Linked DNA regions of Homo sapiens: region 1 is linked to region 2. The links come from fine-mapping of genetic effects on gene expression. A gene starts in region 2. The other region holds a variant in brackets. All regions are shown on one strand. Distances are between the middles of the regions. Region 1 overlaps ADAM32 (ADAM metallopeptidase domain 32). Region 2 holds the start of ADAM9 (ADAM metallopeptidase domain 9).

Evidence for each region. PIP is the estimated chance that this variant, and not a neighbour inherited with it, causes the effect.
Region 1: its variant is the best candidate, but not a certain one, in a credible set for the expression of ADAM9 in whole blood (INTERVAL, PIP 0.52).

The regions. Positions count from the first base shown.
Region 1 is chr8:39,235,168-39,240,552 of GRCh38, reverse strand. All of the region lies in intron 16 of ADAM32 (ADAM metallopeptidase domain 32), which reads right to left. Among named protein-coding and RNA genes, the nearest start is that of ADAM32, 130 kb to the right of the region's middle. The variant TC/C (reference allele first, on the strand shown) is at 2,231.
Region 2 is chr8:38,994,544-38,999,928 of GRCh38, reverse strand. It overlaps ADAM9 (ADAM metallopeptidase domain 9), which reads right to left and starts at 2,956. Exons shown (of 22, transcript NM_003816.3): 1 at 2,769-2,956. The coding sequence starts at 2,865. TM2D2 (TM2 domain containing 2) reads left to right here and starts at 3,420. Exons shown (of 4, transcript NM_078473.3): 1 at 3,420-3,716; 2 at 4,524-4,611. The coding sequence starts at 3,490. RefSeq lists a silencer at 2,320-2,749 and enhancers at 2,760-3,069, 3,080-3,129, 3,190-3,289, 3,450-3,639, 3,248-3,769 and 1 more.

The DNA.
Region 1 (5,385 bases), 240 kb before region 2:
TCTCAGGTATGTCTATGAGCAACATGAAAGCAGACTAATACAATGACAATGACCTTAGGTTGTCTATTTTTTCTCTTTCAGACTTTTCGATGTAGGCATTTAATGCTATAAACTTTCCTTTTAGCACGGCTTTTGCTGTATCTCAGAGGATTGGATGGGTTGTGTCACTATTATCATTCAGTTCAAAGAAGTTTTTAGTTTCTATTGATTTCACTGTTTACTAAAAGATCATTCAGGAGCAGACTACTTAATTTCCATGTATTTGGATGGTTTTGAGGGTTTCTTTTGGAGTTATTTCCAATTTTATTCCGCTGTGGTCTGAGAGAGTACTTGACATGATTTCAATTTTCTTAAGTTTATTGAGGCTTATTTTGTGGTCTATCATATGATCAGTCTTGGAATATGTTCCATGTGCTGATGAATAGAAATACATATTCTGCATTTTGGGGCAGAATGTTCTGTAAATACCTGTTAAGTCTATTTGTTCTAGGGTATAATTTAAGTACTGTGTTTCTTTGTTGACCTTCTGTCTTGATGACCTGTCCGGTGCTGTCACGAAGTATTGAAATCCCCACTATTATTGTGTTGCCATCTATCTCATTTCTTACGTCTATCAAGAATTGTTTTATAAATTTGGGAGCTCTAGTGTTAGGTGTATATGTATTTACAATTGTGATTTTTTTCCTATTGGACTAGTCCCTTTATCATTATATAATGCCCCTCTTTGTCTTTTTTAAGTGTTTTTGCTTTAAAATCTGTTTTGTCTAATATAAGAATAGCTACTCCTGCTCACTTTACATGTCCATTTGCATGTAATATCTTTTTCCACCCCTTTACCTTAAGTTTATGTGAATCCTTATGTGTTAGGTGAGTCTTTTAAAGACAGCAGATACCTGTTTGGTGAATTATTATACATTCTGCCATTCTGAATCTTTTAAGTGAAGAATTTAGGCCATTTATTTTCAATGTTAGTATTGAGATGTGAGGTACTATTCTATTTATCATGCTGGTTGTTTCCTGAATATCTTGATTATTTTTTCATTGTGTTGTTGTTTTTAGAGACCCTGTGAAATTTATGCTTTAAAGAGGTTCTATTTTGGTGTATTTCAAGGTTTTGTTTCAAGATTTAGAACTCTTTTTAGCAGTTTTTGTAGTGCTGGTTTGGTAGTAGCAAATTTTCTCAGCTTTTGTTAGTCTGAAAAAGACTTTATCTTTCCCTCATTTATGAAGCTTAGTTTCACTGCACACAAAATTCCTAGCTGATAATTGTTTTGTTTAAAGAGACTAAAGATAGGATCCCCATCCCTTCTAGCTCGTAGAGTTTCTGCTGAGAAATCTGCTGTTAATCTGATAGGTTTTCCTTTATACATTACCTGGTGCTTTTGCCCCCAGCTCTTAAGCTTCTTTCCTTCATCTTTACTTTAAATAACCTGATGACCATGTGCCTAGATGATGATCTTCTTGTGATAAATTTTCCAGGTATTCTTCGAGGTTCTTGTATTTGGAAGTCGAGATCTCTAGCAAGGCCAGGGAAGTTCTCCTTGATTATTCCCTCAAATAAGTTTTCCAAACTTTAGGATTTCTATTCTTCCTCAGGAATACAAATTATTCTTAGTTTGGTTATTTAACATAATCCCAAACTTCATGGAGGCTTTGTTCATTGTTTTATTTTTTATTTTTTTTGTCTGTGTCAGATTGGGTTCATTCCAAAGCCTTGTGTTAAAGCTCTTAAATTCTTCTACTTGTTCAATTCTATTGTTGAAACTTTCCAGTGTATTTTGCATTTCTCTAAGTCTTTTATTTCCATAAGTTATGATTTCTTTTATTTCTGATCTCTATTTCTCTGGAGATTTTTTGTCCATATTCTGTACTTTAAAAAATTTCTTTAGGTAGTTTTTCACCTTTCTCTGGTGCCTCCTTGAGTAGCTTAATAATCAAATTTCTGAATTCTTTTACTGACAGTTCAGAAATTTCTCCTTCGTTTGGATCCACTGCTGGTAAGCTAGTGTGATCTTTTGGGAGTGTTATAGAACCATGTTTTTGTCATATTACCAGAATTGTTTTTCTGGTTCCTTCTCATTTGGGTAGACTATGTTAGAGGAAAGATCTGGGAATCAAGTGCTGCTGTTCAGACTCTTTTGTCCCACAGGGTAATCCCTTGATGTTGTGCTCTATCCCTTCCCTTAGGGATAGGGCTTCCTGAGAGCCAGACCACAGTGATCATTACTGC[TC/C]TTCTGGGTCTAGCCACGCAGTGGAGCTACTGGACTTTCAGTTGGTACTTGGGAATGTTTGCAAAGAATCCTGTGATGTGGTCCATCTTTAGGTCTCTCAGCCATTGATACTAGCACCTGCTCTGGTGGAAGTAGCAGGGGAGTGAAGTAGATTCTGTGAGAGTCCTTGGTTATAGTCTTGTTTAGTGCACTGGTTTCCTTCAAGACTGGTTATGCTAGCAATGAAGTTGTTATGTGGACAGACTCAGGACCTCTGGTTAGCCAGAATGTTGTAGGCAGTGGAATTAGCTGTTGTTTTTTCCTTCCTTGGAGCAGGGTTGTTCTGTTATGAACTGCTGTAATGGCTTGAGTTGGCTGGCCTCCAGCCAAGAGACAGCACTTTCAAGAGAGCATCAGCTGTAGTAGTATAGGGGGAATACAAGCTTGCCCTAAGGTCACCCAGGTAAGTATTCAAGTTTTTCAGGTGATGGGTGGGCCCTAGAGCTCCCATGAGTTACTGTCATTTTTGTCTTCAGCTACCAGGGCAGGTAGAGAAAGACCATCAGATGAGGGCAGAGTTGGGCATGTCTGAGCTCAAACTCTCCTTGGGTAGGGCTTGCTATGGCCGTTGTGGTGGATTGGGGGAGGTGGTTCTCAGGTCAATGGAGTTACCTTCCAAGGGGGATCATGGCTGCCTCTGCTGCTTCATACAGGTCACCAGGGAAGTGGGGGAAAGCCGGCAGTGACAGGTCTCACCCAGCTCCTATGCAGCCAGTAAGGCCAGTGTCACTCCCACCATGCTCCCCAAGCAGCCAACACAGCCCAGTGTATATCCAGGCCTCTGGTGCACAGGGCTGAGATCTTGCTCCAGGCTACAAGCCTCCCCACTGAGAAAGCAAGCAGAGCTCTCAGGCCTTGCTTCTACCTGCCTGCCATGGCTTCTGTGCTCATATTTGCACTTCTTGTTCACCCCACCACATCTGCCCAGGAAAATTCACACTAAGTCAAAATTTTTACAAGGTTGAGCTGGAAGTCTCCTTATCCTTGTGGCCCTTCCCCAATTCCACTGGCTGTCCTCCCCAGGCACTGCTGTCAGATTAAATCAGAAATCGCTTCCCAGGGCTTCCCTGAGAACTGGGAGTGCCTACAAGGCTCTTCCCGCTGCTTCTTCTACTTTTATGGTTTGCTCGGCTCTCTAAATTCATTTCAGCTCTAGGTAAGGTTAAATTATTCTCCTGTGATCTGGATTTTCAGGTTCTCCAGTAAGGATGTGTGTCCAGAGCCAGACTTTCCCCCACTCACATATTGGGCATTTACAGTTTTATGGGTGTTTCACGAAGTTTGTAGTGGCAAGCTGCTTCTTTTGAAGGGTCTGTGAATTCTTTAAGTTTTCCTGTTATGTTCCTGCAGTGGTTCTTGCAGCAAAAGTTCATAATGTGAGTCTCCACACGCTGTCCATCCAAGTGGGAGCTGCAAGTAAGTCCTGCCTCCTATCTGCCATTTTTCTCCCTGTGTCCTCCACAAGTTTTGATAAGTTATATTTTCATTTTCACTTAGTTCAAAATATTTTAATTTTTTTCTTGAGAATTTTTCTTTGACCCATGTGTTATTTAGCCTCAAAGAGTATGGGGATTTTCCAGGTAACCATAATGTAAACTATGAATTTTGGGTGATAATGATGTGTCAATATAAGCTCATCAATTATTACAAATGTACCACGCTGATGTAGGTTATGCACAGTGGTACAGGTTTTGTGGGGGAGTAGGGGATAAAGAGTATATGAATACTTTTTTGTATTTTTCACTCAATTTTTGCTGTGAACCTAAAATGGCACTAAAATGTAAAGTATATTTTTTAAAATAATTTTTTTAATGATTCAGGGCAGAAAAGTGGAGGATATCAATAAAATAAGATTGGCTATTAAATAAATAATTATTATCAAAGAACCACTTTTCATTATAACACCATGAAATCTAACAAGACTATCCCTGAGTACACAGTTCAAAGAATATCTTGTATTAATTGCACATACAAAAGTTTTACATAGTAAAAAATTAACTCCATATAATAATGGCATATATTGTTTTCATAAAATATGAACTATCATTAGAGTCTCATAAGTATTTAATGAAGATAATAGAAATTTTTGTTAAAATGTACCAGAGTTGTCTATCATTATATTATGGAACGTATAAAAAATTCTGACATAATTCTTCTAACTTTAAAGTATAATAATCAGAGGGCTGAAGATATATTCCCAACTCCATTATTTATGGCAATCTCAATTTCCTTAAGTTGCAGTTTTTACACGAGTACAATAATACTTTTTTAAAAAATGTTATTTTAGAAAAAGCAAGTAACATTAGAGCTTGTTTTTAGTTTAAAATGAGATGACATATGTGAAAATCATTTCCTGTTAAACATTAAAGCACAGCATAACCTTCTTCAGATAAATGGCATCATAAACCTCTTCTAAATACAAACAATCTAACCCTTTTAAACTTTTAATATGTTGAGTCTTCTCGCTGGTCCTTGACCATGATGATGTGTCTAACAAGTCTTTTTGGAATATAGTATCTACTGTCTGCCTGGCTCAGTTGAAATTGAGATAGATTCCCCACTGAATAAGGACACTAACTTACAGAAACAATACTAAGAATGTTTCATCATATATAATTTATACTATCATTAAAAACTACCCAGTAAAATTTGTTTTTACACATTATTTCTGAGAAGAATTGTCTGGGTTATTAAAAAGATTATATTCTTATTAAATTACTTATCAAATCATCTCAAAGACTTTATTGGTTGTGTTGCATTTTTTAGGCTTTTTCTTTTCTGCTCCATGACCTAAATATATCCACTGAGCTCCCTGGCCCAAACCTCCATCAAGATGGCACTTATGACTCGAATGCATAAAAATAAATCAATATTAATGAGTCTATATACTTTACCTACAGTAAGCTTTATTTATACTATAAAACCACTAAAAGTGGCTATTGAAATATACATTTCATATCTAAGGATACCAAGGCTTAATAATATTAAATTATTTCTTAAAGATCATCTATCAAGTAAGTGGCAGAGTCAGAATTCAAATCTATGAACATCTATCTTTAAAGCCTACACTTTACACTTTTTATATTTCCCTATGAGCAAAGATCTGGTCAGGAAT
Region 2 (5,385 bases):
ATATGTTACATACCAAAAAGGAAAAAGAAATATGAGGCTATGTCATATGTTTGAGCTTGCGGATATTCCCAAGAAAAAGCTTCCAGTTACTTAGAGCTTGCATCTTTTGGGGGATTCCATAATAAATTCTATTATAAACCCAGATTTTTTACAAAGAGCAAATATAAATTTGGTAAGTTAAAGCTTCAAGTGCTTTTTGAAAACTGTCTTGGAAACCAGGAACTAGGTTTGTACATATTTTAATTATATATGCTTTCTTTTTTACTTAAAAGGTTGAAAACCAAATCATTCTTAAATGTAAAAGGCTACATTCTCCTATCGGCACAAACACAAACATATCAAATTCAAATATTTTGCTGGCATCTGAAAACGAGATTAGTATGGACCTAAGTTCTTACTACACAAATGATTTTACAGTGACTCACCATGAGTAAGCTTTCAAAGTCATTTTCTTTAGAATGCCAGTCTTTGTTTAAAAAAAAATTCTAAATCTGTTCCTCATAATTACTACCTTAGAAAATCAGAAGAGGTTTCATACCTGATTCCGCTTATTTTTTACAATGACACAGTTACCTTTGTCAGTTTAAAAAAAAAAAAAAAGTTTACTGAAAGTTAGCTGTTTGGAAATTATACTGCATTTCCTCATTGAGACAATGTTATAAAAGGTAGTAAAAATCCTATAAAACCTAATTAACTCCTAATGTAACTGACGTGTGCCTGGTACCTCAAATTCCTCTTTCGATCCTGGAAAATGTTTCAGTGCACGTTTTAAACACCTTATACTGCAAAAATGTGGTCAGCTGATTTTGTATGAACGTTCCCCGAGAGAAACAAGAGTTGACTCACTGCACACTATTACAAAAGCCTCTTAACCGGTGTCCCAGCCTCTAGTCTCTCCCTCCTAGATTCTATCCTCCACCGTGTTGCCCGTTTTCTTAACAGAAAATGAGATTAGGTCGCACCCCTACTTAAAACCTCCACTGCCCAAAGAACTTCCTACGGGGTGAAGTCCAAACCCCTTAGTTCAGCATAGAAGACTCTTCCCAACTGGTAACAACCTACCTTAGTTTGATCTTCCATCCCTCCCTTTTATAGTCTGCATGAAGACATATTGACATTTTTATCATTTCCTAAAAAGTCATGTTCTTTCATACGCCCCCCGCCCCACCATACTCTTGCAAAAACTTTCCTCTGCTTAGAATGTATCTACTATTCTACTTGAAAAATCACCGATGTAGCCCAGTTCAAATATTATTTTCTCTAAAAATCTTCCCCAACATCTCTCAGATGCGCTTAGCATATTTGGTCACCTTCTGCCCCTCTACAATCAACTGTGTGGTGTTTATAGGAGTTCCATAAACGGTGGCTAAACTTTGAAGGGGCATACACATGCCGAAGTGAGGAGCTGGCCAAAACCACAGTTAAAGACCATCAGGATATTCCACTCACCTAATGCAGGTCGGTAATGACTGACAATTTATATTAACATTTAAAAATACAGTCTTATTTACATTTACAAACACAAAAAAAAATCACAGATTAATAAAACTCCGGATGTATAATCGTCTTCACCTTAAACATCGGTGAGTGTTAACCATCTAGAATACCACCGGAAAAGTAGTTTTAACCAGAAGAAATTTGGCAACTTCCCATTCAAAACATTGTCAGAGTTTCAACATTTCCACACTGGGGCAAATTTACTTAATTTCAAATAAAGCAGCCAAAGATAAGAAAAACAAGTAATTAGTTTCCTGAAGGTCAACAGTCCTGCGTTGAAATCTTCTATCATCACCTTTGAATAACTTTCAATCAATGATTTAGTAAAAACTCCCATTCTCCATCATCCTCTGTCGCTGATAGAGAAAATACAGCCATGCAAACAATTATATCATACAAAATCCAAAATAAACAACTTGTTTCCAGAAAGACGCCAGCGTGCTGACAATCTGCTTCCACTATGTTTGGGCATCTCCAATACAAGTATCTTACATAGTCAAGGGCAGTTTCACAATTCAAAAACGATTTCACACAAATGATTTAATTCCTACAATAATCCTGTGAGTTCAAAAGAGCAGGGATTATCTGTCCGGATTTAACACAGTACGAACCCAATAAAAACACAGATTTTTTAAGAATGGTTTGGCTATAGAAAGGTAGCACATCGTTTACAAAATATTCTTACTACAAAAATGACCCAAGAGAAATGAGCGTCCTCCCACCCACCTTTATTCCACCATTAAATTTAGCTGTGTTGACCCAAGGATACCATGAACGTCAAAATTTCAAATTATAACCTGCAGCAAAAGTTTCATCTCTCAGTCTCTTTCCAAGCGACATTAACTCCACGAGCGAGAGCCAGCTCCCTCCCTGCAGGCGTTTGGAGGACTGAACGCCCGCGGGCGCGCCCAGCCTGCAGGGCTCCGGCCCGCCGAGGTCAGCGCCCGCCCCAGAGCGGGTTTCGGGGCGTCTGGGGGACCCGGGGTCGCGCGAGGCGGCGAGGGATGGGGGGACGCTGGGAACGGCTCCATCGAACAGGACACGGAGGAAGCGGTGCCGGGCAGAGGACCCGGGCCAAGAAGGGCTTGGGGCGCCAAACCCCGCGCCTCGGGTGCGACCCCGGTCCGCACACACCTGGAGCGGCCGCGCCCCCCGACCCCGGGTCCGATCCCCAGGCCGGGCCCCTCCACTCCCAGGCACCACAGGTTCACTCCGAGCGCCCCGTCCCTAGGAAGCAGCCGTCCCAACCGACCCGGGGCGCGGACACCCACCTGGCCGCGCCGCACCGAGGACTGGGCCCACCAGGCCAAGCAACAGCAACCACCGGACACGAAGGGTCCCCGAGGGAAAGCGCGCGCCAGACCCCATCTCGGCCGATTCCGCAGGTTCCTCTCAGCACTCGGTCGCCTCCACCTCCGCCTCTTCCATCATTTTCCAACCCTGCCGGGGCCCCAAGTCTGGCCGGGAAGCGCGCGCGCCCGACGAGCACGCGCGCCCGACGAGCACGCGCGCGGCACTGACGCAACTGAGCCCTCGGTCCGAGCTCGCTCCCGACATCGCCTAGCTGCGCTGACGTAGGGAAAAATCCAGTCCCCGGCGCGAGAATAGGATTTCTAAACCGGCGGTGGCAACCAGCACTAGTCGGCCCGCCAGTCATATCCGCCCCGCCCCGTCGGCTGCCGGGCACGCCCACCTAGGGGGGTCGACGGATCCGATTGGAGAACGCATTCGGCGCAAAAGAAGGAGGAGCATGAGACCCAGAAGAGGAATCGAGAAGCAGAAGCAGAGGGCGGAGTAGCCCCGCCCGTCTGCTCGACCTTTTCTAGTTGGTTGGCGGAGGTGCGCGGAGCGTCGAGCTGCGCGTCCATTGGCTGTTTGGCGGGGCTACGCGGGCGGGGCTACGCGGAAAGGCCTGACCACGCAGTTCTTGGGTCTGTGCTGCTGGCCTGGGGTTGTGGTTGAGGCCGGGTCTCCGCTCCTGTGCCCGGGAAGATGGTGCTAGGTGGTTGCCCGGTTAGTTACTTACTTCTGTGCGGCCAGGCGGCTTTGCTGCTGGGGAATTTACTTCTGCTGCATTGTGTGTCTCGGAGCCACTCGCAAAATGCGACCGCTGAGCCTGAGCTCACATCCGCTGGCGCCGCCCAGCCGGAGGGCCCCGGGGGTGCTGCGAGCTGGGAATATGGCGACCCCCACTCTCCGGTCATCCTCTGCTCTTACCTGTAAGCTACCAGTGGTCGAGGCGGGTGGACGTGGAGGGTGTGCCAGGAATATATGGGTGTTAAGGGAAGGCAGGGTTGGGGGGACGCTGCATTTTTTCAGACCCTGCCTCTCTGAGGTCGTTCCGGAGGCAAATATCATGAACCAGGTTTCTCACAGCCCGTGCAGAGAAAACTCTTGTGTGTCAGTGACAGAGGCTTTGAGATCCCCAAAGAGGAAAACTGGGTAGGAGTAACATCATATAGCCTCTGGAAGAAGGGCGTAAGGTTGTGCTTTCTTTGCCCTGCGCCCTTTAGCCCAAGGAGAGTATTAGTCGGTCGATTCGGTGCCAGTACTGAGTAAGGCATAAATGGAGTAAATGACTTGTCTCTGCCTACAAGGCATCTTTTAAAAAAGCAATCAATATTCTTACCGTTGCAGAATCACGCCATTTTTTAACATCTCTTTTTGATCAAACAAGAAAAGGCATTTGGGAAATGCAAAGAGGACTGAGAATACTTTGGCTTAAATTTTGCCCCCAGAATCTTGTTGTTTGCCTACTGAAGAGATGAAACCATGGCAGAAGTAGAATCCTTATAGAAACAGGACCAGAAACACCTCCCTTCTCCAACAAAAGGTTCATTTTGGTGGCTGTCCGTTTGACCTGCTGTGCTTCAGTTTAATTGGCTTGGAAAGGGGTCAGCAGGGTGAAACCGAACCCCAGAAAACTTGATGAAGAAATGTCTTTTGCCCGTTTTGATTACGTGCATGCAAACAGCGATTTGCAAAGACCGTATGATGATGATCATGATCTTACTGGTGAATTACAGACCTGATGAATTTATAGAATGTGAAGACCCAGTGGATCATGTTGGAAATGCAACTGCATCCCAGGAACTTGGTTATGGTTGTCTCAAGGTGAGTTTTTGTTTTGTCGTAAGAGCAAACCCTTCGATAACGAAATAGGAATGTCTGAATGCTATTACATAAAAGTATAAGAGGTACAAAGTTTTTTGAAGAATTTCCTCAGAAAGACCGTTACTGGAAATTTCCAGTATGGCCAGGGTCAGTGACTGAACAAGATATTTGGTTTCCTTATGAAGGAGCAATCTCTGTGCTAAAACCACCCAGGTGCAAAGACCAACCTGTCTTTGGTTCCTTTGGCCACTGACAGATTTTGAAACTAAAATGTCACCCCTGACTCTCCTTCAAGGCATGAACCTTTCCTGAAAGAGCAAAAGGAAGTCTGTGCACTTTGCAACACTGGTGATGGATTGGGCAGTATCTTTGTTACACATGCATTTGGGGCAGAGCTTTTCTTGCCAATGACATTTCTTTTCTCCAGGCAAACAGGTTCCACCATGTCCGTAGGAGACAGATAGAGTCTACCGGTATATGTCTTTGTAGGACATTAAAGCGTTCCAGCGGAAGCCATTGGTTAACAGTGGCTTCTTGGAATGGAAAAACGCTATTAAGGTTTATTAGTAATATCCCTAAAGCTGAGTGTACAGTTCCTAATCAATCTCTCAAAATAACCAATGAAGTTCATGTATCTCCTCCCCACCATGGACTCGCCATCCTATTATGCCACATAATGCAAGTCAAGATTTGGTCAGATGTTAAGAGAATGATGGGAAGGCATGTTTTGTACTAAATCAGACACAGAGGAATAAACCTGACAGTAATAAGACT